Homo sapiens: one gene and its partners. The protein of the gene in region 5 purifies or fractionates together with the protein of the main gene of each other region. This does not show direct contact. Each region holds a gene or a part of one and is shown on either strand. Other genes may lie near its edges. The genes, in order: ITSN1, SNX33, GIT1, ARHGEF7, NCKIPSD, EPS15L1 and ITSN2.

The links.
Region 1: the proteins of NCKIPSD (region 5) and ITSN1 purify together in Homo sapiens (co-immunoprecipitation; 3 studies listed by BioGRID and IntAct, with this or other methods). This does not show direct contact.
Region 2: the proteins of NCKIPSD (region 5) and SNX33 purify together in Homo sapiens (co-immunoprecipitation; 3 studies listed by BioGRID and IntAct, with this or other methods). This does not show direct contact.
Region 3: the proteins of NCKIPSD (region 5) and GIT1 purify together in Homo sapiens (co-immunoprecipitation; 3 studies listed by BioGRID and IntAct, with this or other methods). This does not show direct contact.
Region 4: the proteins of NCKIPSD (region 5) and ARHGEF7 purify together in Homo sapiens (co-immunoprecipitation; 3 studies listed by BioGRID and IntAct, with this or other methods). This does not show direct contact.
Region 6: the proteins of NCKIPSD (region 5) and EPS15L1 purify together in Homo sapiens (co-immunoprecipitation; 3 studies listed by BioGRID and IntAct, with this or other methods). This does not show direct contact.
Region 7: the proteins of NCKIPSD (region 5) and ITSN2 purify together in Homo sapiens (co-immunoprecipitation; 3 studies listed by BioGRID and IntAct, with this or other methods). This does not show direct contact.

What each region holds. Positions count from the first base shown.
Region 1 is NC_000021.9:33,771,007-33,775,204, forward strand, and holds part of ITSN1 (intersectin-1), read left to right. Parts: intron 1-1,054; coding exon 1,055-1,317; intron 1,318-3,722; coding exon 3,723-3,872; intron 3,873-3,961; coding exon 3,962-4,102; intron 4,103-4,198. UniProt on the Homo sapiens protein: Adapter protein that provides a link between the endocytic membrane traffic and the actin assembly machinery. Acts as a guanine nucleotide exchange factor (GEF) for CDC42, and thereby stimulates actin nucleation mediated by WASL and the ARP2/3 complex.
Region 2 is NC_000015.10:75,653,843-75,658,040, reverse strand, and holds part of SNX33 (sorting nexin-33), read right to left. Parts: intron 1,080-4,198; coding exon 826-1,079; 3' UTR 1-825. UniProt on the Homo sapiens protein: Plays a role in the reorganization of the cytoskeleton, endocytosis and cellular vesicle trafficking via its interactions with membranes, WASL, DNM1 and DNM2. Acts both during interphase and at the end of mitotic cell divisions.
Region 3 is NC_000017.11:29,572,574-29,576,608, reverse strand, and holds the end of GIT1 (ARF GTPase-activating protein GIT1), read left to right. Parts: coding exon 1-87; intron 88-158; coding exon 159-389; intron 390-477; coding exon 478-531; intron 532-710; coding exon 711-797; intron 798-905; coding exon 906-979; intron 980-1,138; coding exon 1,139-1,321; intron 1,322-1,466; coding exon 1,467-1,530; intron 1,531-1,673; coding exon of another isoform or gene 1,674-1,694; coding exon 1,695-1,907; 3' UTR 1,908-3,134; downstream 3,135-4,035. Other genes in the region: TP53I13 (tumor protein p53-inducible protein 13), read right to left, coding at 3,912-4,035. UniProt on the Homo sapiens protein: GTPase-activating protein for ADP ribosylation factor family members, including ARF1.
Region 4 is NC_000013.11:111,121,532-111,125,729, forward strand, and holds part of ARHGEF7 (rho guanine nucleotide exchange factor 7), read left to right. Parts: intron 1-4,198. UniProt on the Homo sapiens protein: Acts as a RAC1 guanine nucleotide exchange factor (GEF) and can induce membrane ruffling. Functions in cell migration, attachment and cell spreading. Promotes targeting of RAC1 to focal adhesions. May function as a positive regulator of apoptosis.
Region 5 is NC_000003.12:48,682,905-48,687,593, reverse strand, and holds the start of NCKIPSD (NCK-interacting protein with SH3 domain), read left to right. Parts: upstream 1-1,678; 5' UTR 1,679-1,786; coding exon 1,787-1,957; intron 1,958-4,581; coding exon 4,582-4,689. UniProt on the Homo sapiens protein: Has an important role in stress fiber formation induced by active diaphanous protein homolog 1 (DRF1). Induces microspike formation, in vivo. In vitro, stimulates N-WASP-induced ARP2/3 complex activation in the absence of CDC42.
Region 6 is NC_000019.10:16,422,940-16,427,137, reverse strand, and holds part of EPS15L1 (epidermal growth factor receptor substrate 15-like 1), read left to right. Parts: intron 1-1,821; coding exon 1,822-2,055; intron 2,056-4,198.
Region 7 is NC_000002.12:24,203,175-24,207,372, reverse strand, and holds part of ITSN2 (intersectin-2), read left to right. Parts: intron 1-1,097; coding exon of another isoform or gene 1,098-1,126; exon of another isoform or gene 1,127-1,129; intron 1,130-2,075; coding exon 2,076-2,159; intron 2,160-2,954; coding exon 2,955-3,128; intron 3,129-3,589; coding exon 3,590-3,747; 3' UTR 3,748-4,198.

The DNA of each region.
Region 1 (4,198 bases), on a different chromosome or scaffold from region 5:
CTGCCCACCTCAGCCTCCCAAAGTGCTGGGATTACAGGTGTGAGCCACTGCACCCAGCCAGGACTTTGAATTTTAAGATATCAGAGTAGAGGATACCATCTCCTCTGAAATCACCAAAGGTGAGCAAGAAAACCAAAACATACTTGCCCGCTTTCATCTCTAATCGCTGACTACAGTACGTGAAGGAAGTCTGTCTAAAGCAGTGAAGTCCAAACAGGAATGTGGGAAGAAGCCAAAGATGGATGCTCACAGCTGCAGATCTCAAGGCAGAGTGAGAAGCAATGGTTCTTAGATGTGGACCAGGGACTGGCATGCTGCACAGGGTGGCAATGAGTGCTCCCCTGGCCGGCGTTGGTACCAAGGAGGATTGCGTGAGGCCAACACAGAAATGAAATAGACACTGCTGAGGACAGTAAGGGACAAGGATGATGGGATTGTAGAAAATGAAGAAATAAAATGGACATAAAGTATTAGAAAAAAAAGGATAGAACTGAGTAATCATTCTAAATTTATAATTGATGTGTTAAAGAAGGAAACTGAATAATGGGTTAGAAAAAATTGTTGACTGACTGTGATCTCCATAGGGATCAGGGCACAGCTTGTTCTTCAGTGTGAAAAGCCGAATGCTCACCTTTCACTCTGCTTTGAGAAATCTTGTTAGAATAGAGGACTCATCAGCACGGTTACAAGGCAAAGGGAAGGAGGGAGAGAGACAGAGACTCATGGTCCAGAAGAGAGGGGGTTAATTCCTAGGGCAAGCTCATGGGAAGAAGGGAAAGGATGGAGTAACAGGGAAGGAAAGGAGTCTGGATGGTGATGTAGAACTGCTAGATAAGGATCTTTTAGAAACAGTGTTTGGCGTGGAGGAGAAGATATAAACAGAGAGGTTAGGCAAAGGGGGTTTTCGTTGTGCTCATTAACAAGGACACAGAAGCTTAGGGAGTTCTGGGTTTGGGTTTGTACTACAAATTTCAAATACATTGGTGAGTTTTCCTTTGAAAAGAGTCCGTTGAAAATCTTGAGTTTTCATAGTTGCTGTGTTCCTTGTCTGAAGTAACGTTTGAAGATAAGAAGCGGGAGAACTTTGAACGTGGCAACCTGGAACTGGAGAAACGAAGGCAAGCTCTCCTGGAACAGCAGCGCAAGGAGCAGGAGCGCCTGGCCCAGCTGGAGCGGGCGGAGCAGGAGAGGAAGGAGCGTGAGCGCCAGGAGCAAGAGCGCAAAAGACAACTGGAACTGGAGAAGCAACTGGAAAAGCAGCGGGAGCTAGAACGGCAGAGAGAGGAGGAGAGGAGGAAAGAAATTGAGAGGCGAGAGGTAAGCAGGCGAGAGTGGAGCCACCCGGAGTTAGTGTGCGATCACCCCTTTTCAGAATTATCCAAGTGATCTATTCACGCCATCTTTGTCTTTTTACAATTCAGTAGTTTTAGTATATTCCCAAAGTTGTGCAACCATCGTCCCTAATTCCAGAACATTTTCATCACTCCAGCTCTTTACCCATTAAGCAGCTACTCCCCATTTCTTTCTCCCTCCAGCTCCTATCATTAATTTTACTTTCTATCTTTCTAGATTTACTTATTCAGGACATTTTTTATAAATGGAATCATCAATATATGGACTTTTGTTTCTGGCTTTCATTTAGCATAATGTTTTCAAGGTTCATCCACATTGTAAAATGAATCAGTCCTTTATTCCTGTTTATGGCTGAGTAATATTTCGTTATATGGGTATACCACATTTTTTAATTCATTCAGCAGTTGATGGTCATTGTGGCTATTATAAACAATGATGTTATGAACATTAATGTACAAGTTTTTGATGATACAATTTTGTAACAAACCACTGATACCAGTAAAGTGTTTTTCCAGACTGTTTTCTCTGTATACACCTATATAAAAATATAAAGGTTTATATGGCGGAGAGTGTAAGGGCTGTATAATTTTTTAAAAACCACTGTAATAGTATCATACCAATTACATTGTTCTGCAATCTTCTTTTTTTTTTTTTTTTTTGTTTGAGACAGAGTCTCGCTCTGTCACTTCCAGGCTGGAATGCAGTGGCATGATCTCAGCTCACTGCAACCTCTGCCTCCTGGGTTCAAGCGATTCTCCTGCCTCAGTCTCCTGAGTAGCTGGGATTACAGGTGCCCGCCACCACGCCCAGCTAATATTTTGTATTTTTAGTAGAGATGAGGTTTCACCATGTTGGTCAGGCTGATCTCGAGCTCCTGACCTCGGGTGATCCACCCGCCTCAGCCTCCCAAAGTGCTGGGATTACAGGCATGAGCCACCGCGCCTGGCCCATGCAACCTTCTTTTTAAACTCTTTTAAAAATATGTCTGGGACATCCTCCCTATATTCTATGGAAGGCTTCGTAAATTTAGCGCCATACCTGGAAAGGGGCTAAGCAAATCTTGTCTCTCTTTCCAATTTTAGTACATTACTGCAGAAGCAACACATGGTTCTTTCATGTGAATGAAAGATAAAAATGAGGAATTTTTCGATGTAAAAAAATAGCCTGAGTGCTGTGCCTCAAGCCTGTAATCCCAGCACTTTGGGAGGCTAAGGAGGGATGATCACTTGAGGCCAGTAGTTGGAGGCCACTGCATTCCAGCCTAGGTGACAGAGCAAGAACCTGTCTCAAAAAAAGAAAGAAACAAAACTTATAGCCATAACTCCTTTTTTTTTTTTTGAGACAGACTCTCGCTCTGTTGCCCAGGCTGGAGTGCAGTGGCACGATCTCAGTTCACTGCAGCCTTCACCTCCTGGGTTCAAGTGATTCACCTGCCTCAGCCTCCGGAGTAGCTGGGATTACAGGCGTGAGCCACCATGCCTGGCTGATTTTTGTATTTTTAGTAGAGACAGGGTTTCGCCATGTTGCCCAGGCTGGTCTCGAACTCCTGACCTCAGGTGATCCGCCTGCCTCGGCCTACCAAAGTGCTAGGATTACAAGCGTGAGCCACTGCGCCCGGCCCCGTAACTCCTTTTTGTTCAGACAGACACTAACAAAATTTTAATTTTCAGAATGAACAAAGATAGGCAAACTTTTCTTCAACGTACCAAAAAAATGATATTCTAGAGTATTTATTCAGAATTATTTAATAGACATTTACCATGTATCAGGTGTAGTTGGATGACCCATGAGTCAGAGGCAATTCCCATAGACTGTCAGATGCTCTGATATGTACTCTATCTAGCAGTCGTCAGAGCCAGTCGTTGGAGGGAGCAAAAGCTTTTGTGGTAAAAAGGAAATGAATGATTAGGAAGTGGGGAGTCGCAGACTTTTAAAACGAGTTAAGTAATAATTTCTCTTTTGGTGGAGTAAAATCAACTCTTGTTTGTTTTTGTTCAGGGGTGTTTTAGTTTGATTTTACTACATAAATTTTCCTTCTTGGCGTGTCAGTAAATAAGAAGGAGCATTTTTAGTTAGCACATCAAGCATTCTTGAAGGCATAAAGAATGGAATTCTAATGGGGAAATAATCCTGTCATCTTACGTAAATATAGTATTATGTAAATATAATACCCAGTTCTGTGTATTCCCTTTATTCCCATAGAAGGAATACTGTATTTTTATGTAATTTTTTGTTTTCTAATGTGATTTCTTGTAATGTTTAATATTTCATCCCTAAAAGGAAAGACTTCCTAGATGCCATTTTTGTGAAAAGACATTGTGTAGTGTAAGAACTGAAAAATTAGTAATTTGTCTCTGTAAATGTCACAGGCTGCAAAACGGGAACTTGAAAGGCAACGACAACTTGAGTGGGAACGGAATCGAAGGCAAGAACTACTAAATCAAAGAAACAAAGAACAAGAGGACATAGTTGTACTGAAAGCAAAGAAAAAGACTTTGGAATTTGAATTAGAAGCTCTAGTGAGTGAAGTTTGGTTATACTTTGAAAATATACTAAGATGGAACCATTAAAAACAGTAATAATTTTTATTATCTTTCATTTGTTCAAGAATGATAAAAAGCATCAACTAGAAGGGAAACTTCAAGATATCAGATGTCGATTGACCACCCAAAGGCAAGAAATTGAGAGCACAAACAAATCTAGAGAGTTGAGAATTGCCGAAATCACCCATCTACAGCAACAATTACAGGTGAGGAAATATGCCTCTTAAAAGCTATTATATTAAACTGGCATCCTTTTCTCTAATTCATTTCATTTACTTACTTATTCAGTAAACATTAAGCAA
Region 2 (4,198 bases), on a different chromosome or scaffold from region 5:
GGAGGGAGATGGCCTGTAGCCCCCTCCTGCAGGGGACAGGGTGATGTACGGACAGCCAGCAACATGGGAGCAAGGGAGATCCCTTCCTACCACACAGGCCAGAATCCCCATGGAAAGCGTACCTAACTTGCTTGGAAAGTAAGGGAGAGAAGAGGGAGATGTTTGCATGCCTCCATAACTTTGCCCATGCTGTTCCTCTCCCCTGAAAGTCCTTCTCCCCCATGTACTGTCTGGCAGGCCCTTGTCATTCTTCAAAACACTGCCCAAATGTTGCCTACTCTATGGAGTCTTCCCTGACCAGTGGAATGCTGTGGTCCCTTCTATGAGCTTCCAGAAATCCCTCACTTAAACATCAGTCATACTGCATTGACTCTGTCTGTGTCTGACCCCGACCTTCACTGAGGACTCCTGAAGAGCAGGCATGTCACAGCCCTGGGTGCCCAGCATCCGACCCAAGGGTGCAGCAGGCCTCGGTGTCTGCTGAATGGATAAGGCAGCAGTGGCCAGGTGAGCAAGCAAAATAGGCTCTAGGGGAGGCTGAGACCCTGGCCTGACCTTCACTGACTGACCGGCAGCCCAGGCCTTGGCCTCGAGGGCTCCTGACTCTATTCTCACCCCTGCTGTGCCCCACTTCTAAGGAGTGGGGAATTTCCCAGGGGCACCCATGACTCCTTGAAAGCTCCTTCTCCCAGGAGGCAGGACAGGCCGCTTATCTCCCCCACCGCTGACCCCTCCCCCAGTCACTGCTGGTATAGGGAGGTCGGGAAAGTGGGGTACACTGCAGTGACCAGGCCCAGGGGAAGGAGGGGGCCCAGGCACACGCGGTCAGAGGTTGTCATACATGCGCAGGGTCTTCTCCAGCTGCTGGCCCACCCGCTGGTAGAAGAGGATCTGCTGGCGCAAGTAGTTCTGCATCATGTGCTTGAAGTCGAGCTCACGGCGCTGGTGGAAGTGGTTCATCTCGGCCTGCAGGGCGAAACCCACCACGCGGCAGCGCCTGCGAATGCCGTCTGCCTCGTCCTGCACCATGCGGCCCTCGTCACTCATGCGTTGGCTCTCCTTCACCTTGGCGAAGGCGCCTGGCATAGGCAGAGCAGAGGACAGCGTGTGAGGGCTCTGATCTCCATGTGCTCCCTGTACCCTTGAGGGCAGACAGCACCCTCATCAGCTCAACTCGGACGTCATTCCTGAGCCCCAGACCCACATTCCAGCCACCTGGGTGTCTCTGCCAGGATGTTACCCAAGCCATCACCCTCAGCACCTCCTAAACCAAGCACATCATCTTCTCTCCAAATGTGCAGTGCCACCAGTAGCCCACATGTGACCAGTCACAGCCCTGCTTGATGGACTATGAATTCAATGAGGATAGAGCCTGTCCTCAACCTCTCTGTGTCTCTGGTACCCAGAACAAGGCCTGGCCCACAGCAGATCCTGATATAGGCCTGCTGAACTGATTCAACCCTGTCCCTCACTGGACTGCTACAACAGCCCCGCCACGTCTCCCTGCCCTCCGCCCCAGCCTCTGACAGGTTCTCTGCAGCATCTAAAGAGGTATCCCAAGCTGGGCACCTTTCCTAGCTCTCCACTACCTACAGATCAAGGTCCACACCAATCTGCCTGGCCTGGGGGGCCCTCACCTCTGGGAGTTGGCCCCTGCACGCATTCCACACTGACCCCCATGTTCGTCAAACTCACCTGGCTCTTTCCTACCTTCCTACCTCTGCCCCCTGGATTCCTATTCATAATTCATGGCCCCGATCAGGTGCCACTTCTACACTGGAGCCTCTCCCAGTTCCCCTGACAGAATGTCTCTCCCATGTCACCTGTGCCCTGGCTCCCCACCCCCACCCCCATCACACTGCTGATTCTAAAACAACTCTTCAAAGGCCACCTGGTGTATCTCCCAGACATGCACGCCCTGTTCCCTCCTCATCCCAGCCCCCAGGGAACTCGAGGAGGTTGTGTAATAACCAGGTGACAGATGGGGGGTGGAGATGAACCTGGGCAGAGGACCCAATTTAGAAGAATCTGAATGAATGAACAAGCAGCTGGTGAATGAATTTCAGTTCTGAATTAAAAGGGACTTGACGAATTCTGCCTTTAAGCCAGTGGGGACAGTTGCTGGGAAGAGAAGGAAGTTTGCCTGTGCCTGGCACTCAGTCGCCGAGGGCTGCAGAGAATCCACCATACAAAGAAGATTAGGAGCAGGGAAGGGTTGGCATAGAGGACAGCACACCCCTGAGCACTGCAAACGCACCCACTACACACAGATAGCATGCTCAATACCCATGCTTTCCCACTTCTCCTTTAAGGAGGGCTCTTGAGGGCTGTCTAGATAATATTCTCTTCACTCCCTGGCTCAAATTGTCCAGTGCATTCTAAATGCATTCATTGAGCACTTACTGTATATCAGGCCCAGGGCTCTACATGCTGGGAATAACTCTGGATGCCTTTAGAAGGGGCAACATCCATGTTAGTTGATAAGTGCATGGCTAATCGGCTAATAGTAGCATTTCAGGCAAACAGACTCAAGTTCAGAGAGTCTCCAGGGCTGCTCACACAGCGCCCAAAAGAAATCTGCATTCCCCAGCTCCCAGCCCACTCAGTCCTTCTGCCACCTTCCCTGGACCACCTCCTGCACCATCTCAACAGCCCAGCCCTGGGCAGCAGAAGGGGGATCACCCCAAGGCCCAGGATAGGACCCAGTAAGAGACTTCAGAGCTAGAAAGGCCCAAAAGATCAGGTGTCCAACCCTCGATTCCACCTCCATCCTACTACTGTACAGAGGAGGCCAAGGCCCTGAGGGGCAGGAACTTGCCCAGGACTCCCAGCCTCTTTCCTGCCTGGTCCTCCACAGCTGGGGGTCGGACACCACTTCTGCTGCAGGGAGCCCATGCCAGGTCCTTCAGGCATATGTGTGGGGCCCCCAGACGTTGGACACAGGGATTCAAGAAGGTCCCAAGGAGTAGGAAGAACCGTAAGAAGAAAGGTAGAAAACAGCAGGGTGAAGAAACTGGAGTTAAACTTCCGCAGAAGGAACCTAGCTAAAGAGGAGATACTGAACTAGCCTGGATTCCACCTGCCGAGAAAGTTGGCACAGTGGAAGTGCATCTATAGACTTTTCCTGTCCATGGCCTTAGAGGAAGGAAAGGCCTCTTTTGCTGATGAGGAGCCCAAAGAGTAAGAATGAACCCATTGCAATGGTTAGGTATCCACAGACAGGCAGGAGGCCAGGGATGGGGAGCAAAGGCTGCAGAGGTCGGGGGGAAACAGAGGCCCCACCCTGTTCTCCGTTACCCCTCCACCCTGTGACTCAGCTCTGGGGCCAGGACCAGCTAATGCTAATGCACCCCACCCCACAGGCTGGGAGTCAGGGCTCAGGCCTGTCCAGCATCCCCCCGACATTCTACTTAAGACTTAACCTGAGAGCTGAGGACCCAGGGGGACCTCCTGCCTCAGCACTCCTCTTACAGGCTGGGTCCCAAAAATGCAGAAAGGAGGGTTGGAGCCCACCAGCTGCAAGTCCCAGGGATATTCCCTAAGCTCCCACCTCAATCCATCTTGCCCCTGCCTCTTGGAGACAGTTAACATCCACCCCAGGTTGGGGGCAGGAGGGAGCAGGAGGTCTGAGTCCTAGTCCTAGCTGTATCCTCTCCAGCAAGCCACTGCTCTTGCCTGGGCTCCAGGTCTCCCCACTGCCCAGTGGGACAGGTTGCACTAGATGTGATGCTGTTGACAACCTCTCACACGGTATAGTGCTTTAAGGAGTTTCCACATCTGTAAAATGGGATAATAATAGTACCTGCCCTATAGTATAGTTGAGGCTTAACTGAACTAATATGTACACAGTTCAAAGGAGCGCACCTGAGATACAATAGAAGCTCCAGATGCTACATGTTATGGCTTGAAAACTGCTTTTCTTTTCTTTTTTTTTTTTTTTTTTAATTTGAGATGGAGTCTTGTTCTGCTGCCCAAGCTGGAGTGCAGTGGCTTGATCTCGGCTCACTGCAACCTCCGCCTGCTGGGTTCAAGCAATTCTTCTGCCTCAGCCTTCCAAGTAGCTGGGATTACAGGCACCTGCCACCATGCCTGGCTATTTTTTTGTATTTTTAGTAGAGACAGGGTTTCACTATGTTAGCCAGGCTGGTGTCGAACTCCTGTGATCCGCCCACTTCGGCCTCCCAAAGTGCTGAGATTA
Region 3 (4,035 bases), on a different chromosome or scaffold from region 5:
GCCCTGGCTACATCGGAGGCAAAGGTGCAGCAGCTCATGAAGGTCAACAGTAGCCTGAGCGACGAGCTCCGGAGGCTGCAGCGAGAGGTGAGGGTGCAGCCTCGGTGGGAGGGGGAGCCCCAGGACTCCAGGGGGTTGACAGCACTTTGCACCCATAGATCCACAAGCTGCAGGCGGAGAACCTGCAGCTCCGGCAGCCTCCAGGGCCGGTGCCCACACCTCCACTCCCCAGTGAACGGGCGGAACACACACCCATGGCGCCAGGCGGGAGCACACACCGCAGGGATCGCCAGGCCTTTTCCATGTATGAACCTGGCTCTGCCCTGAAGCCCTTTGGGGGCCCCCCTGGGGACGAGCTCACTACGCGGCTGCAGCCTTTCCACAGCACTGTGAGTCACCTATGGGTCTCAAGGTGTGGGGAGATGGGTGGGGCTGCCGCAGGGTCCACCATGACGCTCGCTGTGCTAACATCCCCAGGAGCTAGAGGACGACGCCATCTATTCAGTGCACGTCCCTGCTGGCCTTTACCGGGTAAGCCTGGGGAAGGCGTGTCCATCTTAGCCAGTAGGTTCTGAGCCCCAGGGGGTTCTGGGCTCTGTGCTGAATTCGGGGCTTAAGATGATTAGACTGACCTGGTCCCTGCTGCACTGCTGGTGAGCAGGGGGGCAGTGGGGCACACTGACTCCATCCAGCGCTGCCCTGGGTTTCAGATCCGGAAAGGGGTGTCTGCCTCAGCTGTGCCCTTCACTCCCTCCTCCCCGCTGCTGTCCTGCTCCCAGGAGGGAAGCCGCCACACGGTAATGTTTCCATGCCCAGTGCCCACAGGGTGGCTGGGGGCCGTGTGGGCTAGGGGCAGTGTGGGTCCAGGAACACGGCGCTCACAGCCCCTTCCCTCCGCCCTCCAGAGCAAGCTTTCCCGCCACGGCAGTGGAGCCGACAGTGACTATGAGAACACGCAAAGTGGGGACCCACTGCTGGGGTGAGGCTCCCTGGGTCTCCAGTCCAGCCTGCTCACATGCCGAGGCGGGGAGGTTGAGAGGGCCCCCAGTGTGTGAGGACCAAGGCGGGCGGCTCCGAGGCTGGAACGTGTCTTTCTCTATATGTATCTTTGTCTCTGTTTTCTGGACCTGGGCCTCAGGCTGGAAGGGAAGAGGTTTCTAGAGCTGGGCAAAGAGGAAGACTTCCACCCAGAGCTGGAAAGCCTGGATGGAGACCTAGATCCTGGGCTTCCCAGCACAGAGGATGTCATCTTGAAGACAGAGCAGGTCACCAAGAACATTCAGGAACTGTTGCGGGCAGCCCAGGAGTTCAAGCATGACAGGTACTGAGTGGAGGGGGAGGTGAGGGGGATGCAGTTCCTGTTGGCTTCTAGGGTGTTGCAGAGAGCATGAGGGGCCCTGGGTTCTGCTGTCCCTGGGAACCTCCCTTGAGAGCCCCCTGCTTTATAGCCTCCCTTCTCCCCGCAGCTTCGTGCCCTGCTCAGAGAAGATCCATTTGGCTGTGACCGAGATGGCCTCCCTCTTCCCAAAGGTACAGGGGCCAAAGAGAGGACCAGGAGTGGGAGGGCCTCGAGCTGGGGCAGGCGTGGAGAATCCCATCTGATCGCTACCTGGGTGGAGACACAGACAAACTGGGCCCTGATCTCAGCTGGTGGCTTAAAGTCCAAGGTCCAGCCTCACTCCTGCCCCCTCCAGAGGCCAGCCCTGGAGCCAGTGCGGAGCTCACTGCGGCTGCTCAACGCCAGCGCCTACCGGCTGCAGAGTGAGTGCCGGAAGACAGTGCCCCCAGAGCCCGGCGCCCCAGTGGACTTCCAGCTGCTGACTCAGCAGGTGATCCAGTGCGCCTATGACATCGCCAAGGCTGCCAAGCAGCTGGTCACCATCACCACCCGAGAGAAGAAGCAGTGACCTCTCTCCCCACACCCTCACCTGCACCCTAGGACCTCACTGGCCATAGGAGCTGGGCCACTCCAGACATTAATCCCCACCCCAACAGAGCCACTGGCACAAGTGCCCTTAGTGCTGCCACACTCCCTGGCAGCCAGGTGCCCTGGTGCCCACCCCTGTCGAGCCCCTAAGGATGGGGAGGTGGGGGGGCAGGAGCTTCTGTCCCCCACATTCCATGCACCTCCCCTCTGTATATAGCATCTCCCCCCTCCTAGTGAGCAGGGGCCTGCAAGGCATCACTCCCAGCCCCTCGCCTTCTAGGGCACCCTCAGCAAAGGGGCAGGTGGGGACACTCCAAGTGGGGCAGCTCTCCGTACATGCGCCCCACCCCCATGAGCCAGTTCAGCCCTACTGGGGGCTGAGCGGGGGCATCCCCTCCTTTGTACATAGTCTCCATGGATGTCCCTGCCCTGTAGCCACCAGCCCCTTGCTGCTCTCCCTTTAATGCCATATGGCCCCTGCCTAGGGCACAGGCCCCAACCTGTGTGCTGGGGTCCCCAGCAGCAAACACTGGAAAGTCTGTTTTTTTTTTTTCTTTCTTCTTCCCCACCCCTTAATTTTAACTTTGTGGTAACTGAGTGCCCCCGCGTGCCTGCGTGTTGAGTGTGTGGGCGGCAGTGCCGTTCCGGAGGCCTGGTCCATCTGGAGTTTTGAGGGGTGAGGGGACCAGAGCAGTGGGACCAGCATGGGGATCAGCTTCCCTTCCCCACCTGGAGCCAGGGACTGTCCGGGTAGCCAGTTTTGGTCCTGCCAGCTGCCTCCCTGATCCCTCCCCACTCTCGCCCCTTCTCTATGAACTTAAATCAAAAACCACTTCCCTCCATCTCCTCCTGCTCCTGCGTGGAGGGGGAATGTGTGCTGGCTAGGGTGGAGGACTGAGCACCTGAGCCTGGGGCTGGCTCCCCGGGGTCCCCGACTCAGCTGGTGGCTGTGGAGCTGAGTCCCCTCCCCGTAACCTCTGCAAGGCCAGCACCCACCATCACTACCTGCACCTGCTGTGGTCCCACCCTCTGGAGGCCTGGGAACCTGGCTGCAGCCTGGGAAGGCTGGAGAGGCAGACGGTGGGACCCACCAGCTCTCTCCCCATCCCGCTTCTTCCCTGGGGGCCAGGCCCTACCTGTGTGGTGGTGGGTGGGCTGTCAAGACGTGTCATGTACATTTGTATCAAAAATAAAGAAGTGACCATGAGCTGTTTCTGATGCTTAGAGAATGGGGGCTGGAGGGAGGTGGCAGACATGAAGGGTGACTGCAAGTGCCCCAGGACCCCCGCCCTAGGGAAGCCCCTGTGCTGGGAACGTCTGTCTAGTGGAAGAGTTAGTTTGCGAATAACAAAGCTAACATGTATGACGATAACGCCACCCTCCCACGAGCACATTCCTAAAGCCCCATGTCCAGGGACAGGTTGGCCAGCGGGGGCGGGCTGCCTCAAACACCACCTCCATGGCCTAGGACGAGGGTCCGGGTGGGAGTCTCTGTGCGGCAGATGCACAAGCTCAACTCCAGAGTCTACTAAAAATAATTTAATTAGAAACGGAGTTTTGGCAAGGGAGGCAGAAGCGGCTCCTTTTCTCCCCTTGGCCGCCCACTCAGCAACCAACAAGGAGGAAAGCCCCCGCAGTGCTCGGCCAGTGCCGCGCCATCGCCACCAGGGAGCGCCCCGCGCGCGGTCCACGTGGCAGAGGTCGCGGCCTCGCGGCGCGGGGAGGAGCCGCACGCCACAGTGGCAGGTCCCAGGCCGTCACTCCGAGCTCTCGCCTTCCGGGCCGCTGTCCGGCGTGGGCGGGAGGAGGGGTCTCCGGCGCGAGCGCTTGACCCGGCGCGAGGGCTGCAGCAGCCTCCGCTTCAGCACAGCTGTGGGCCGGGCGCCGAGCAGTCAAGGGCGGGAGGGCAGGGAAGCTACGGGGGGCGGCGGGCGACGCGAGGTGGGGCGGGGGCCTCGGGTAGGGTAGGGAGGGAACTCCTCACCAGCCACTGTGTCCTGGCTGTCCGCTGTGGGCCCCCAGTAGATGCTCTCCCCGCGTCGGAAGTTTCTGTGCAGCCGTGTGCAGAGCGTGGCCAGGGTGAGCAGCACCAGCAGGAAGGTCAGGGC
Region 4 (4,198 bases), on a different chromosome or scaffold from region 5:
TTGTTCTTGTGTAGGGTGGATTTTAGCCGTTTGGATTGGAGTCTTGTGTAGGCTTGACGCCCACGCGTCTCTCACTGCACGAGGGAGGTGGCAGAGGCACATCATCCCTTTGGGCACGCAACTCTACCACGTGCATCGCTGGGAGATGGGAGGACTGGCATCCCCCGAACCCACGGGTCCCTGCCTGGAGACACTGGGAGACCCGGTCCTCTGCGTGCTTCAGAGTCAGGCACACCTGGCTTTGTTCCCGCAGCCATTTGCTCTGTGACTTCCGGCACCTGTCTAACCTCTCGGAGTCCTAGTTTCTTCCTCCTAAAAATGAGATGAATGATATCCACTGGTGGGGGCAGTGAGGTCATTACCAGGGTAAATGAGTAGATGTGCTGGGCACAAAGTCATTCCTCAGTACGCAGTAGTTACTGTTTTGTTGATTGACACTGAAAACCTTCCCCATCGTGTCCAGAAGACTGTAAGCCAAGATTTGAACCTCAGAGCCATCCAAATCCAGGAACACGGGTTAATTCTCACAACAGGGCAGACTCTTGCAACTTTCGGGGGCTGGCAGCCTCTGCATCCCACTCTGGACAGACCACCATTGTCTGGGTTGGTGGGCCTGCTGAACGTGGCTTCCAGGGCCCTCTGGTCAGCGCCAGATCTGGGCGCAGCTGCTGAGTGCACACAGCTGCTGGTTGGGGAGCGGGAGGGCTGAGCGGGTGGACTCAGGTTTCGCTTATATAAAGTTTCATGCATCAGCAGGGCCGGGAGTCAGAGATGGGAAGTGAGGGCCAGCCTGCCCCACCTGGTGTCTGCAGAGAGAGGGCTTTGGGGCCGCCCCGGTCCGACTGCTTCCCGGGTACAGCTTCTGACTTCTCCCTCCTTTATCAGTTCTGTCAAGTTAGGGTAGGAGAATTAATCTCTTGATGTTTTTATATTTCTAACTTTAGCTTTGAATTTTTAAGGTTTGATGCACCAGGCTGGCAGTTCTCAACTCTGTTTTTGCAGGATGGTGTCATGTCTGCTGGGGTCTCAAGGCGAGGCGGTGAGGGGAACTGAAATGGAATGTGTGCACAGTGTATTTCAAACACATGTATGTGAATTCATTTAATCATCCCTTTTACCAGGTTCCTATTGTGTGCGTGCTAGTGACCCAATCACACGCATGGAAGCGCACGCATGGATGCCAGCCATACCACCTCTTCAGGCAGGTCAGAAGAGAAATGCTAGGATCTTGGGTATAAAGTATTTGTGAGTTCTCAGGATGAAGGAATGTAGAGTCATCCAGCCCAGACGCCTCCTTTTGCAGATGGCTTCACTGAGGGCACCTGCATGTGGTTGTGTAAGCTGTGTACTGCCCGGTCTTGGGAGAACCGTTCACACTGTAGTCTAAGCAAATGGCTCCAAGGCCTGTGCTGGGAGGCGGCCCTGGGATACTGTGTATAGAGGTCAGCCTCCCAGGACACAAAGCAGAGTGGAGAAGGGTTGGGGTAGACGATAGAAGTGGCCCCAATTCTCCAACCCTCCCATGCCCCTGGCAAAGTGACCTTGTAGCGCCTCCATCAAGAGGTAGGAGTCTGCTTCCTCACTTCTTGAATCTGAGCTGTGACTTGTTTTGGCCAATGGACTGTGGCAGAAGTGGCCAGTGTTAGTTCCTAGCCCAGGCCTTGGAAAGGCTTGCACTTTTCTGCACTCTCTCAGGCCCTGTGTCTACCTCCGAGGAGACCCCAGGGCTTGGGTGCTGGTGGGGTGTGATCACATGGAGGAGAACTCAGTTGTCCCTGCTAGGCCATCCTGGACCTATCCACAGCCAGCCAACCTCAAACATTGAAGAGAGCCCAGCCAGGGTCAGCAAGCTGCCTGCCCTGCCCAGAGCAGGCACAGCTGCACCAGCAGGCCCGGACCAGGCTGACTCAAGCCAGCCACTGAGGTTTACCATGGCCATAGATAACAAATCACACACACACACATACATGCCCGTGCCATTCTTAACTAGGGGACATGCCGATATATGTAAATACAGTCCATCCCAATCACAAGAGTGCTTGTACCTTTGTTTAAAATACCCTCTATATCCTTTATTTCCTTGATAATTTCCTCTCTAGTATTTTCTCTATTCTCATTTTTTAGAAATCTTATTAAGACTAATCAGAGATAATATCTATTGAGTGCATACTGTATGCCAGGCACTGTTCTAAGGACTTTGCCCATAATAATGGATTTAACCCTCCTCACCACCCTATAAGGGAGGTGGTGACAGGATCGCCCCCATTTTCAGATTAGGAAACGGAGCTCCAGAGCGGCTGGTAACTGGCCATCGTTGGCTGGTGGGCTGCGCCCCCCCCCCCCGGCCCCGCCCCCTGCCCCTGCGGCTGCCAGGCCTGCTGGGTTGAGTCTCTCATTTGCTGACCTTTCCACTTGTATGTTTCTTCTCCTTCTGAAAGACATTTCCTTGACTTTATCTCCCAACTTTTCTACTAACATTTTTTATTTTGACCTACTTTGGCTATTTTTTTTTTAATTTCTAAAAGTTCTTTTTTCTCGTTATCTGGTTTCTCTCTGTTTCTTCCCTTTCAGTCAGTCCCTTCCTGTTTCTGGGAAGATTCCTCTCTTCCTGTGAACATTCATTACAGTTTCCTTGAAGGGTGCTTCCTTCCCTGCATTCACTGTCTCTGTTTCCTCTGAGTCCTCTTATGCAATTCTTTTTTTCCATGTTGGAGATTTACTGAAACATCATGTGATCTTTCAAGTGTGAGGCCCTCAAAATGACCAGGAAGTCCTGTGTGACTGCTGGGGCCCAGGGACATGCAGGTCTCGCCATGGGGCAGCCTGGTGATGCCCAGAAGTCTGAACCTGTTGGTCTCTTCTCCAGCAGCCGTGAGTCTCTCCAGAGACTCCTCCATCTGCTGCCTATCAGAGCAGTGTCCATCCTCACCTTGGCTCCTGTCCATGCTGGCCCTCTCCATGTTCTGGCCTCTTTGGTTCACTTTTCCCCAGAGAATAAGCCTCGGACCCCTGCAAGGATGGCAAGAGGGGTGGCCAGCTGTGATGGGGCTGGGGCCCCTAGGCCTGCATCTGACTCTCAGACAGGTGGCTTGTCTACCACCTGGGAGGGTGCACTTGCCACTGGCTACTGGGATGGGACCTTCTAGTCTCTGCTGAAGCCCCACCCATCCTCCGTCTGCTCCCTGCCTTCATAATGGTGGCCTGGGGATAGGTGTCTTCTAGTTTTTTTTGTTTTGTTTTGTTTTTTAGACAGAATCTCACTCTGTCACCCAAGCTGGAGTCCAATGGCACGATCTCGGCTCACTCCAACGGCCGCCTCCCGGGTTCAAGTGATTCTCTTGCCCCCGCCTCTCGAGTAGCTGAGGCTACAGGTGTGCGCCACCATGCCCGGCTAATTTTTGTATTTTTAGTAGAGACAGGGTTTCACCATGTTGGCCAGGCTGGTCTCAAACTCCTAACCTCACGTGATCTGCCTACCTCGGCCTCCCAAAGTGCTGGGATTACAGGTGTGAGCCAGTGCGCCCAACCAGGTGTCTTCTAGTTTTATTGAAGATGATGCTTGTGTTTCTTGTTCTCCTGGCTGTTTTGGAGGGATTTTTTTTCAAGAGAAGTGAGGCTGAAATAATTTTACTGTACTGCTTTGGACCTGGAATCTTTCCATGATGAGAAAAAGAGAGAGAGTGAGAATATATGAATGAATATCCATGTCCTATGCCCTGGGTTTCATATCTCTTCTTCTGAGTACTTTAAAATTACTAGAGAAAACAAAACTGGAAGCTGGTTATTTGAAATGTTCTTTTTTTTCTTGTTGCTTGGTATTTTGTGCATAACTTTATTATTACACTTGGAGCAGCTTTTTTTTTTTTTAGGGGCTGGTGATCATCCTATCTTTTCTCTATAGAAGCTATATATAATTCAGAATCCCAAAAAGTGTATATAAAAGAAACGTAAGCCTCGTCCAGTTTATATTAAATTGCCTTTGTCTAAAATGGGCATCCACAGCTCCAAGTGTGTTTGGATTTGCGTGTTCTCTCGCCATGAAGCCTTGTTCTGACAGTGTGATCTATTAGCAACGCCTTTAAAGTGGCCTGGTTTTGATTATTTGTAAATATTATGGCCAGTGATGGCTTTTCTCCCTCAATTCTGAGTGTCTCACTACTAATTTCCTGTGCCAGAATACTTTTTCACCAATGTCCTG
Region 5 (4,689 bases):
ATACTAGGGTCTCTAGCCTCGGGTCTGGTCCATTGGCAGCCATGGACTGTGTTGTAAAGGGGCCCAGGTGATGGAGGGTACCATAAAAAGGCGTGTTTGGGCAGGTAGGGTGGTCCTCTTGGCCACACCACCTGTCACCACTCCTGCCCAGCCCTAGTCCCCATTGCAATTTCACCAGTCTTATTCTTCAGGCAGTCCCAGACAGCACAGACCCCGAGATTCTGCCCTGCCCCAGGAGGGCTTCTGGGAGGAGGAAGGGCCAAGAGAGGTCTTGAACTGAAGAGCCAGACCTGGTGCAGAGAAGGCAGGGTCTGGATGTCAGTTTCTAGCAGTTCTACCCCTCACCTGAACCTCACACTAGGCCTATGTACTTTAGGCCTAAAAATAGGCAACTGGGTCAGACAGACACCCATAATCCCAACACTGGGAGGACTGCTTGAGTCCGGGAATTTGAGACTAGCCAGAGCAACATAGCAAGACCTTGTCTCTACTAAAAAAAAAAAAAAAAAAAAAAAAAAAAAAAGCTGAGTGTGGTGGTGCATGCCTGTAGTCCCAGAGACAGTAGGCTTGAGCCTGGAAGATCAAGGCTGCAATGAGCTTGATCATCCCACTGCACTCCAGCCTGGACGACAGAGCAAGACCCTGTCTCAAAAAATAAATACAGATAAAAATAGAAAACTTGCACACACTGGCCTGTACACGCCTCCTGCTTCCTGGGCTCGGGCTTCCTGTGGAGCGTAGCTGGACCATTCTCAGCCACAGTCTCTCCAGGACCCTGAGGGCCTCTTCCCTGGGTCTTCCAGGCACTCTTATTACACGGATTTCATATATCTGGAGATCTGGGCTGACTGGAAAGCTGGGTGGATCAAATAGGCTCTTAAGGCCACCGTGGTACCCCACTCCCTCTTTCAGCCCTCCTCTATGCTCTCAGAAAGGGGCATCGCAAATCTTAAGTCCTATAAAGACAATAAAACACAGCAAGATGATAGCGATTGATGGGGGTGGGAGCTTGACGGACAAATACTATAGGAGAGGGAAGGGAAAATTGTCCCAGGTAGAGGGAACAGAATATGCAAAGGCCCAATATAGAGAAAACCAGCCATAGCTGAAGAGAGAGGAGGAGTAGGGGTGGGGAGCAAAGATGGGAGGGCTTTAGACAGGGAATAGCCCCGCCTGGTTTCTGCTTTTGTGGCCCCCTTCTCCCCACACTTGCTCCCCACTGGCCACCACCGGCACTCGGTGAAGACAGGTGGTGAGGCCTAGACACACCGAGAGCCGGGCCCCGCGGGGGCTTCCAAGTGTCGGATCAGCAAGATCATCCTTTCGAGGTCGCCGTCCTTGCAATTAGTAGATGGGACCCACTGCCCCAGGGCGGTAGGGGCGCACCCGCTACGAGCGGAGCGCGCTTTCACCGGGAGGTAGGACGGGACGCAGCGCTCGGACTTAAGCGGGGAAAGGGAGCAGAGGGCTGGACGGGTGAAACTGAGGCCGGGGTGAGGAGTGAGGGTGCGGTGTCCGGGGATGAGGGGCCTGGAGCCGGGAGGGACCAGAGGAGACAGCGAGCTGTCGACCCCAGCCCCGCCGCACCTCTTGGGGCCGCGCGGGGGCGCTGCTCTCCGATGCGTGGAACGATACAGCCCGGGGCGGGGCTTCGGCGGGCGGGCGCGCGCGCGCCTGCGTAGTGTGTCACGGGGCGGGACAACCGCGGCGCGGCTCGGCGCTCCCGGCCTGGCGTTGTGGCGCCGCAGCCCTTGCCACCTTCCCTGCACCTGCCCTGCCCGGCCTCATGTACCGCGCGCTGTACGCGTTCCGCTCGGCGGAGCCCAACGCGCTGGCGTTCGCCGCGGGCGAGACCTTCCTGGTGCTAGAGCGAAGCAGCGCGCACTGGTGGCTGGCCGCGCGGGCGCGCAGTGGTGAGACGGGCTACGTGCCGCCAGCCTACCTGCGCCGCCTGCAGGTGAGTGCGCCCCTTCCCGCCCGGCCTCCGCGCCCCTGGGGCAGGACCCCTTCACAGCCCCGCGGAACCGACCCAGGGACCCCACCCTCTCCGGGACCCGAGGCCAGGACCTCTATCAGACAGGGAGTTTGAGAACCTGACCCTGAGACCCCCGGACCCACGGGGACTGAGACCCCAAGTGTCAGCATCACCCACAAAAGACCAGGCCCTTGACAGACCAACTCCCGATCGACCAAAAGCCTAACTCTGGGACTGAGACTCCTCAGGACCCCAGACCCTTCAGTATCGAGTCCGCCATCTGAATGGCGACCCTGAGCCCCACCGAATCCTGGCCAATTATTCAAATCCCTGAGACCCCAGATCCTTAATATGCCCCTTCTCTGGATTCCTAGGACCCCACAACCAACCTCCCTCCCTCCCTCCCTCCCTCCCTCCCTCCCTCCCTTCCTTCTTCCCCCAACCCCGCGCCTTGCCCCCCGTTGGAGCCACCACTGAGACCTGGACCACCTTGGACACCACCTGTTTCCCTAGCCATTCTCCAGGTCCTCAACCCCCCAACTTGGACCCTAGAGCCATAGACACCTCCATCCCCTATGTAACACCCAAGCTTTGGTACTTCAGTGTCTTTCACTAGCCTGTGTTCAGCCACCCTCTAAGCTCTTCTTAAGTCTCTACCAACCTTATTTGAACCAAGGACCCATGCCCCTGCTGACACTGTCTGCTCCACTCCCCAACCCTGACTTCTCAAACTTTCTTGCTTTGAAAATGGGTTCCATCCCTACTTGTTCCCAGCCTGGAGTGGGGACTGCTCACATTGTGATGAAGTGAGTTCTTATAGCTTCTCCTGGTCTGATCGTGGCCCCATTTCCTTCCAGTGGAAGCTGCAGTCCCAGTTCCTGTTTCCCTAAGAGTAGCCCTGCTGCGGGGGTTGGGGTGCGTATCTCCAGCTGGTCTATTCTGACCACAGGGGGAAGAAGGGCCCAGAGCTGCCGGGCCTGTGCCAGACACCCCCGCCCCGTCCTAGTCCTTATCCTTTAGGAAACATCCTGTCCCAGCCCAGTTCAGGACAGAAATAACGGGATAAATTTGGAAGTGTCATCTGGTCTTACCAGGAAGGATGGGCCCTGGGGGCCTAGGGGCTTCCTCATAGACCCTTGGCGTGATCCCATCTAGGAGTGCCAGGGGTGGGAGTGGGGGCCGTGGACACCATGGCTGCTGTGTGTCAGACCCAACCTTTTTGGGAATGGGGTCTCATTGAAGGCCTCTGAGGAAAAGTCCTGTCTCTTCCCCTACTGGGCATAGGTCAAGGGCCTGTGAGTCCCCTGCCGCCAGCCAGGACCAGTGGGGCAAGGTGTTTGGGGAGGGCAGAGAGGCTACCATCTTCTCTGTCACTGTCTGTTTCTTTCTGCGTGTCTCTTTCTGTCTGGATTGCTGCGACTCTGTGCCTCTCTGCCTGTGTCGTTCCGACTCCACATGTGTGTGTTTTTGTTTCTTCCTCCGGCTCCCCCCACACTCTGGCTTTGGCTCTGTTTCTTTCTGCGTTGTTTCCCTCTGTCTGCCTCTCCGTTCCTCTCTGAGCTCCTCTCTTTCCCCATTCCTTTCTTTCTCTCTCTCTCTGTGTGTGTGTGTGTGTGTGTGTGTGTGTGTGTGTGTGTGTCTTCATGTCTTTCTATCCCCCTGTCTCCTCTCCCTGCACTCTGGCACACCTCATACCACCTGGAGGGCTTTGCTGACCTCTGTGCCCACCTGTCTGTGCCCATCAGGGAAGCTTCTCAAACCCATGGTGGAATGAGTTCATCTCAGCTCCGGGACTCCTATGTAGCCTGATGGACTACGTGTGCCAGGGCCAGGGGAGGGCTGGGGGTAGCTGGTTTGATAGCTGCTACCCTACACTCCCCATGTCAGATAGGCAGAGTAGACTGGATCCCTGGAATGTTGGGGATGGCAGTACAGAGCCTGGAACAGGGGCTAGGCCCCTCTCTCATGTTTATCCTTTGCCACAAACACAGAACTGCTTCCCAGGGTGGGTTTGGAAGCTTACTGAGACATCTTGTGGGGATGAGGGCCAGCAGCAGGGTTGGGGAGGGCAAGTCCCTTTGACCCATTCTCAGCTCCCAGGGCTTACAGAGGGCCCTTACAAGGACAGGGCTGTTCTGGGGTATGACCTTGGTTTTGTGAAAGATCAGCAAGATGCAGAGTGATGTATTAAGGATTCCAGATACTGGAGACTTCCTGTTTGGCATCTCAACCTGGGCTCTGAGCCAAGACCAGGGATAGACGAGGTATGCGCTCCTGGCTGCAAGCTGGGAGCCCCTGGGCTATGTTTTTGCTTTAGACCTCTGATTTTCAGAAACATCTTAGCCAAGAGCCTTGCTGTGGGGTAAAATCCTGATCAGGACCTAATATGTAATGTGGCAGCATGGGGGTCACCCTGTGCCTCAGCTCCCTGAGTGATACAGTTTGAGAACCCCATTCCATATTCTGGTTCAACTTTTTGTGCTATGTCTAGCATTCCAGGCTTTCGCTATATTGGTTCTCTGCCCTGGGTTCTATCTCGGGCTGGGCCTGGGCTGAGCACCTCCGTTTGGCCTTCAGGTCTAACTGCTGTCCCCTGCCCCCCCCAGGGCCTGGAGCAGGATGTCCTCCAGGCCATTGACCGGGCCATCGAGGCTGTACACAACACAGCCATGCGGGATGGTGGCAAGTACAGCCTGGAACAGCGTGGAGTCCTC
Region 6 (4,198 bases), on a different chromosome or scaffold from region 5:
ACTAATTTCCTACATTTGTTTTATCTTTCTCCTCCCTTCTTCCTCCCTCCCTCCATCACTCTCTCGCCCTTCCCACTGCTGCACGAAGTTTTCCTGTGAACCATTTTAGGGTTAAGTTGCAGACATGATGCCTCTTCATCCACAAACACTTCAGTGCGTATTTCCTAAAAACAAGGACTTCTCTCACACATAACCATTATCCACTTCAAAATCAGGAAATTCACATCATAGCATTGCATTTATGATGTTTTCATTATATCCTGTATATACCCCTTATATTCTGTATGAGCGTGTCTATTATTATCTAATCCCAGGATATTACTCAGATTTTATCAGTTGTCCCAAAAATGTTCCTTGTGTCTAAAGAGAACCCAGTCCTGTGTGTTACATCCTGTTGTCTTTTGTCTTTCGTTTCCTGGGATCTAGAACAGTTCCTCCATCGCTCTTCGTGTCTCTTGACGTGGACTTTTTGTTTTTTTGTTGTCGTTGTTCTGTTTTTGAGAGGGAGTCTCACTCTGTCATCTAGGCTGGTGTGCAGTGGCATGATCTCAGCTCACTGCATCCTCCACCTCCTGGATTCAAGCGATTCTCCTGCCTCAGTCTTCCAAGTAACTGGGATTATAGGTGCCCACCACCACAGCCAGCTAATTTTTTTTTTGAATTTTTAGTAGAGATGCGGTTTCTCCCTGTTGGCCAGGCTGGTCTTGAACTCCTGACCTCAGGTGATCTGCCCGTCTCGGCCTCCAAAGTGCTGAGATTACAGGCATGAGCCACCATGCCTGGTTTCAACGTGGACATTTTGAAGAGCACAGGCCAGCAGTTATGGAGTGTTCCTAGGCCTGGGCCTGGCTGCCAGGTCCTCTTGATGACCCAGGTCATGCACTCTTGTGAGACAGGAATCCCACGGAGGTCACACCCGCCCCACATGGGCCTCCCACCTGGGGGAACGTGATGTCAACATGTCTTCTTACTGCCATGTTGACATTCATCACTGGGTCAAGGTGGGTCAAGGTTGTGGGTTCCTGTGGGCAGTTGCTCTTTTTCCCTCTGTGCTCAGTTCATCTCATGTGGGGCACGCCTTGATACGGTCAACACCCATGACTCTCAGACTCTTCCATGAGAGTTCCACCATCGCTGATGAGTCTCGCCTTAATCTGGCAAGATTAATTATGATGATGGTGGCTGCCAAATGGTGATGTGCTAATCAAAACCATCATTCCTTGCACTTTTATTAGTTGGCCTTCCACAAGGAATTTATTTCTATGGCTGTGGCCTGCCTCATGGATGCATCCTCAGTTCCACTGTTTTTTGTTTTGTTTTGTTTTGTTTTATAGAGACAGAGTCTCGCTCTGTCACCCAGGCTGGAGTGCAGTGGCGCGATCACAGCTCACTGCAGCCTCCATCTCCTGGGCTCAGGCAATCCTCCCACCTCAGCCTCCCAAGTAGCTGGGACTACTCCTGAACGTCTTGAAGTACAGGTCTCTCTTCTGGTGTCTTTAGACTTCCAAATCCAGTACTGGGAAGGTGCCAGCCCTGGAGCTGGTGGCCTCCCTGAGTGGTGAAGGGATGCATATGGAGTCTGGCTTGATTGGATTCTTTCTGTGTGCATTTCAGTCTCGAGGAATAATTCAACACATGTCTTGGAAAGTTACACATAAAAGATAACTCATGAGGAATGATTTCTTTTCACTCTGGTCAGCTTGGGAGCGTCCTGACAGAGTGTCCTGTCACTGCAGCCCCCAAAGGGCTGCCCTCTGCCTTCTCCTGATGGTCCCGGCCCCAGCCTTGCCCCTTCAGTGCCATTGTTGTTTGCACCTGCAGGCCATGCACTTGGTGTACCGAGCCCTGGAGAAGGAGCCCGTGCCCTCCGCCCTGCCCCCGTCCCTCATCCCACCCTCCAAGAGAAAGAAGACTGTGTTCCCTGGCGCCGTCCCCGTCCTGCCTGCCAGCCCCCCACCAAAAGACAGCCTCCGCTCCACGCCGTCCCACGGCAGCGTCAGCAGCCTCAACAGCACAGGGAGCCTGTCCCCCAAGCACAGCCTCAAGCAAACACAGGTACGGAGCCCTCAGCGGGCACAGCCCCCTCTCAGAGCACAGTAGGATGTTTCTCGGGAGTTCTTAACATGCAACCCCAGAACGGTCAAGCTTGTGATGAAATGTCTTTAAAAAATGCTTGTGGCCAGGTGCGGTGGCTCACGCCTGTAATCCCAGCACTTTGGGAGGCCGAGGTGGGCAGATCTCAAGGTTAGGAGATCAAGACCATCCTGGCCAACATGGTGAAACCCCGTCTCTACTAAAAATACAAAAAAATTAGCTGGGTGTGGTGGTGCGCACCTGTAATCCCAGCCACTCGGGAGGCTGAGGCAGGAGAATTGCTTGAACCTGGGAGACGGAGGTTGCAGTGAGCTGAGAGCGCGCCACTGCACTCCAGCCTGGGCAACAAGAGCGAAACTCTATCTCAAAAAAAAAAAGTATTCATTTATCTCATTATTTCAACATGGTCTCCCCTATGTTACTCAGGCTGGTCTTGAACTCCTTGGCTCAAGTGATCCTCCTGCCTCGGCCTCCCAAAGTGCTGGGATTACAGGTGTGAGCCACCGTGCCCAGCCTGTGTCTGCAGAGCTCTTGCCAAGAGTTTTGAAAGTCAGGTTAGGGGAGGTACTTTACTGGCAACGAAGCTAGTGGGGCCAAACTCACTGGTAGGCACAGGTCACCCAGCGTCATAACCCACCTCTCTAGTGATCTTCTGGTGGTTCTCTCAAGACCCTCTGACTAGACCGATTTTACCAGTGGCCCCTGGTGGGGTGGGGTGGGAGGGTATAGCTCCTGCCCCCACGACGGCATTGGTAGGATCACAGTCATGAAAACGAGCATTTCTGGGGGCCTACAGTCCACATGCTCCCCCTACTCCAACTTCCTCATCTCCAGGCCAGCAATGCTCTTGTCTGGGCCTCCCAAGGGCCACCCGATTTTGCCCTCATGCCAGGTTTGAGTGAAGCCACTTCCAGCCACCAGGGTCTGATATCCTTCCTTTGGGACCTGTGGCTGCTGAGCCGGCCTTAAAGCCCAGCTGTCACTGGGAGAGCCAGCTCCACGGCAAGGCTGCCCCGTGTTGGGTTTATAGTCAATTTGGCATCAGAATCTTGCTGCTAACATACTCTGAGGCTCCAGAAATCAGGCAGTGAGTTCCTTTTGTTTGCCCAGCAAGTATTATTAGGACTCTTGTCATCCCAGAGCTATAATTTCATACGTAATTTCTTCTTGGGACCCGTGGGACACAGAACCCCCCTTGTTTCTGTGTCCCGCCACAGCTCAGCTTGTCTGACTCCTGTTACCTCTTTGTGATCCCTGGCTTCTGAGGTTAGCTTGCTGTAGCTCCGTGACTTAAAAGGCAGCAAGCCCATTTCTCATTAGAATTCCTTTATTGGCATCTTTACGTCCACCAGACTTGAGAAGGCTCACAAAATTTACACAGTACAATGCCACAAGTAAAAATCAGGTTGCTCTTGCCATCTGAACTCTCATCATTTGAATTAGATCCATAGATTTTTTTTTTTTAAATATATAAGAGACAGGATCTTGCTCTGCTGCCCTGGCTGGAGTGCAGTGGTGCAATCACGGCTCATTGCTATCTCAACCTCCTGGGCTCAAGTGATCCTTCCACCTCAGCCTCCCTAGTAGCTGGAATAGGTGGATGCCACCACACCTAGCTAATTTTATTTATTTATTTATTTTGTAGAGATGGGGTCTTGCTGTGTTATGCTGGCTGGTCTTGAACTCCTGGGCTTGAGGGATCCTCCTGCCTTGGCCTCCCAAAGTGCTGAGATTACAGGCATGAGCACTGTGCCTGGCCTAGCTCCATGGATTTTGATAAATTGTTTGATCAAGTCCTTGCTGTACTTCATCACACATACTTGCTACGTGAAACCCCTGAACTAAGCTGATCTGGGTCACATGGTATCCCTTGTTTCCCAAGCTTGCTTTCTGATTTCCCTGAGTTGGTATCAGGAGCCTGTTAGATTTGGACATCACAGGAGACTCGTTCATGAAGAGTAAACGAGTTTAACCATTGTTTCCCAGTCTTGACCATGAGTCCCTTCTCCTCAATCCTATGGACATCTTCGGGTTGTCAACACTGTGAGAACTCTTTGAGAAATCCCCCCCCCCTTTTTTTTTCCCCGAGACGGAGTCTTGCTCT
Region 7 (4,198 bases), on a different chromosome or scaffold from region 5:
TGTGGACAGTAGTGTGGTCCCTGGCCACCCAGGCCCCTCCCTGGCACCTCACACCTGGTCAGCTGCACTGCAGTCCTCCTCCCTCGCCACTTTCCCATCGCCCTTTCCTGTCCCCGTATCACAGGCCCCCGATCTCCCACCCAGGCTGCAGCACAAGGCTCTCTTTCCTCTCTGCCACCCATCCTCTTCATTTCTGGAGTATTCTTTTTTCCAGAGCTGCTCTTATACCTCTTCCTGCTGAAGTATCTTCCCTATTGCCTCCCAAATTAACGACACATTTCTTACCCCACACTCAGGGCCCATCCCCACTACTACCTGCCACCCAGCCCCATCCCTAGCTCTTTCCTGTGCCCGGCCCATCCAGCTGCCTAGTTGAGCAGCCCATTGTTGCCCTGCCTGGCCTTCCCATGTGAGCTCCCCCTCCAGCTCAAGTGCTCTGCCCTCACCTTAAATTCTTCCCATCCTTCAAGGCCCACGTCAAACACAGCCTCCTCCATGACACCCTCTTGCCCTAACCAGTGTGACTTCTACCTGGACCCCCCGCTGTCCTGAGGCTGCGATCATCCTCCGGGCGCTCATCCTCTGTTGCCTCTGCTTGCGCCCTCTCAGTCCCTGCTTTTCTCACTTAATGGCCATAAGCTCCCTCAAGGCAACTCCCTCCCACATCGGGGCCAGCATGTGACTTATGCCAGTGGGGCTCCAGATTTGTTGCACCGGTGATGTCCTCTGTGTTCATGGCACAGATCACTCACCTGCTCAGTGGAGCCGCAATGGTCTTTGTAAAGCACCCCCCACCCCACCCTGCCCCACCGTGGCCTTCAGACCAGAGCTCCCACATTCTTCTCCAGCCTCCACATGAATGCCAGGCCCCAACCTCCCTGCTGCATCTCCAGCTGTGCCAGGCCAGCCTGTGGCCTCCACCCCACAGGGGGCCTGTGCTCTGAGCCAGCTGCATCTCCACCTTCCTCCCCGCCGGCCCCCTGCATCTCCACCTTCCTTCCCGCCGGGCCCCCCCATGCAGCCTGCCCTCCTGCCTGGGCCTCCCACCAGCTTCCTGGCTGCTATAGTTGCAGCTCTTTATGTGTTTTTTTATTCAGGTTTCCCCCATTTTGTTATATACTCCTAAAAGGTATGTTTAAAACAGCTTTTGCTAATTTAGTGTTATTTTAATGGTACTTTAAAAGCTTGCTGTTGAAAAATCAATGATTGATCATTTCATAACGCATATGATCTCTTAATTGGCCAAAGATGTCAATCCGGTTTTTCTGCCTGAGTTTTGCTTCCCATCAGCATCTGCATATGTTGCTGTGCATCGTCCGTGCGTTCAGTCCTTCCCACATTTGTCAATTACTTTGTGCCAGGCTCTGTGCTAGGCTTAACTGAGCCTGGACTTTGGTATCTGATGTTTAAATGTTGACCCTGCCATTTAGCAGCTCTGAGTGGATCACACTCCAGTCCTTTCTAAGCCTCAGTGTTTCTCATCAGTAAAATGGGGAGCTACATTATCAGGTAATTATGCAGTTTAAATAATATAATTTACATAAGTCTAGCACATGCCTAACACAAAGTAAGTATCCAGTAAATGTTAGCTGCTATTAAGTGCTGCACAAATACCATGTATTATTTTATTAATATTACTATTTGCTAGGCAATTGAGGGGTTAATATAAGGATGATCGAAACAGTCCATGCTCTACCCTGGCTCCTGTCTGGCAGAGGAGACAGACATTACACACGATTTCAGACCCAGCAGGCTGTGGGCTGCTCATAAGCGAGGGATACTGGATGCAGAGGAGGGAAGGGATCTGGGAGGTAGATGTGGGATCAGACCTGCATCTTGAAGGATGAGTAGGATGCTGACGGGCAGAGAAAGCAGGCAGGGCAGAAAGAGCAAGCAGGGGCTTCCTAGCAGGCAACACAGCCTGGGGAAAGGCACAGGGCAGCCAGATGCTGGGCTGTTGGGCCCAGGGCAGTGGCAGATGGGGACAGGGAGCCGGTAGTGTTATGGTTGGTTTGAAAGACAGGGTCTGCATCCTTGGAGAAGAGATTAATGAGACTTGTCTTCCTCTTTTGTAGCCCGCTCCCAAAAGACTTCAGGCATTGGGCGCCTGATGGTGCATGTCATTGAAGCTACAGAATTAAAAGCCTGCAAACCAAATGGTAAATACTGCCTTGATTCATTCAGCAGACATAACTGCCCTGCCCCAGTTTTTGCTGATGACTTTTTGAGACAGAGTCTCAGTGTATAACCTAGGCTGGAGTGCAGTGGCACGATCTTGGCTCACTGCAACCTCTGCCTCTGGGGTACAAGTGATTCTCAAGGCTTAGCCTCCTGAGTAGCTGGGATTACAGGTGTGCACCACCACGCCTGGCAAATTCTTGTATTTTTAGTAGACACAGGGTTTCACCATGTTGGCCAGGCTGGTCTCGAACTCCTGACCTCAAGTGATCTGCCCGCCTCGGCCTCCCAAAGTGCTGGGATTACAGCACTTTGTCACTGACAAAGTGCCACTGCGCCCAGCCACTGATGACTCTTCTGAACACTGAATAAAGGAATGCTTTCTAACAGTGTGTCCAGTGCCACTAAAATGCGCATATTGGACCAATATTCTTATCACTGTTTTCCCAGTAAGTGCCAGTGCCCGCCTTCCCGAGTGTGTCTGCGCCGAGGAAGCATGCAGCAGGTTGCAGTGACACTCACCCAGGATTGTTCCGTGCGGAGTGGTCCTGGCGGTGGAGCTCTCGGCCACTCCCCAGTTAATGCTGCTGTCAGCACTGGGAACTTGGAGACCCTGTTACTAGACCACAGGGATATGGTGCCCCAGGCAGCGGCTCCTGCTGCCATGGTCTCGAGTGACCCATTATTGGAATCCTGCTTCTGCTCAGGGAGGGCACTGTCAGTCGCTTCGTTTTACCTGCATGCACCACATGTGTCTGTGGTTTGTTTTTGTTCAGGAAAGAGCAACCCATACTGTGAAATCAGCATGGGCTCCCAGAGCTACACCACCAGGACCATCCAGGACACACTCAATCCCAAGTGGAATTTTAACTGCCAGTTCTTTATTAAGGATCTCTACCAAGACGTGCTGTGTCTCACCCTGTTTGACAGAGACCAGTTTTCACCAGATGGTAAGTGTCGCTCAGCCAGGGGATCTAAAGGCTTTCCCAGTTTCCTAGATCCTGGAGTCCAGATCTAGGGGCTTCAGCTGTGTGCAGACCCCATGCCACTTCAGGGAAGTGACACAGGCCTGTGTCATCTCGCTTTGGCAGCAGGTGGGTGGCCTTCCTCAGGGGAGGAGGTGGCCTGAGATGTGTTTCAGGTCTTTGACCCATCACTCCCTACACACACGACGTGAACACCACTCCTGGAGCATTCTCAGAATGGAGATTTGAATTCCATGTGGCAGCTTCTCACACACAAACCTGCCATCATTCCCCACACACCCACTCACGACATTCAACAGCCATGAGCCAAAAGAAGTTCCTTGTTTCAGATTTGAAGGTTTTATGAATCCACTTCTTCCGGATGTAGCTCTTTAATGATTTTATAAAGAAGAAAGACTTCTGACTCTCCTGTGTTTATTCACCAGATTTCCTGGGTCGTACTGAAATTCCAGTGGCAAAAATTCGAACAGAACAGGAAAGCAAAGGCCCTATGACCCGCCGACTGCTGCTGCATGAGGTCCCCACCGGGGAGGTCTGGGTCCGTTTTGACCTGCAGCTTTTTGAGCAAAAAACTCTCCTGTAGGGGTTCTAAAGGACAGCACCAGCGGGACAGCCCACAAGGCTGGGGCTGGAGAATGAGAGACTGCGCTCTCTTGGGGCTGAGGGAGCACCATGCAGCTTCACCCCTCACAAAGCCATGCACGCTGGGGGCTCTGTTTTCCTGCACACTAAATAGCTAGCAATCTATGCAAACACCTTTCCCATAAAGAAACCAAACCCCATAGTACAGTGCCTTGTCCTAGTGTTCACATGTTCAGCTCTGTTTGTTTAGATGCCAAGGTTTCCATTTTCAGGGCTATAAAAAGTATTACTTGGAAATGAGGCATCAGACCACCAGATGTTACCGCTCGGTTGAATGTGTCCACCGTGGAGTGGTTTGGTGACGCTGTAACCATTCCACGCCAGTGACCTCTGCTGGGTCACAGCCACTCAGGAGGGGAAGGGTCAGGATGAGAGGCTGCAGCCTCGACACT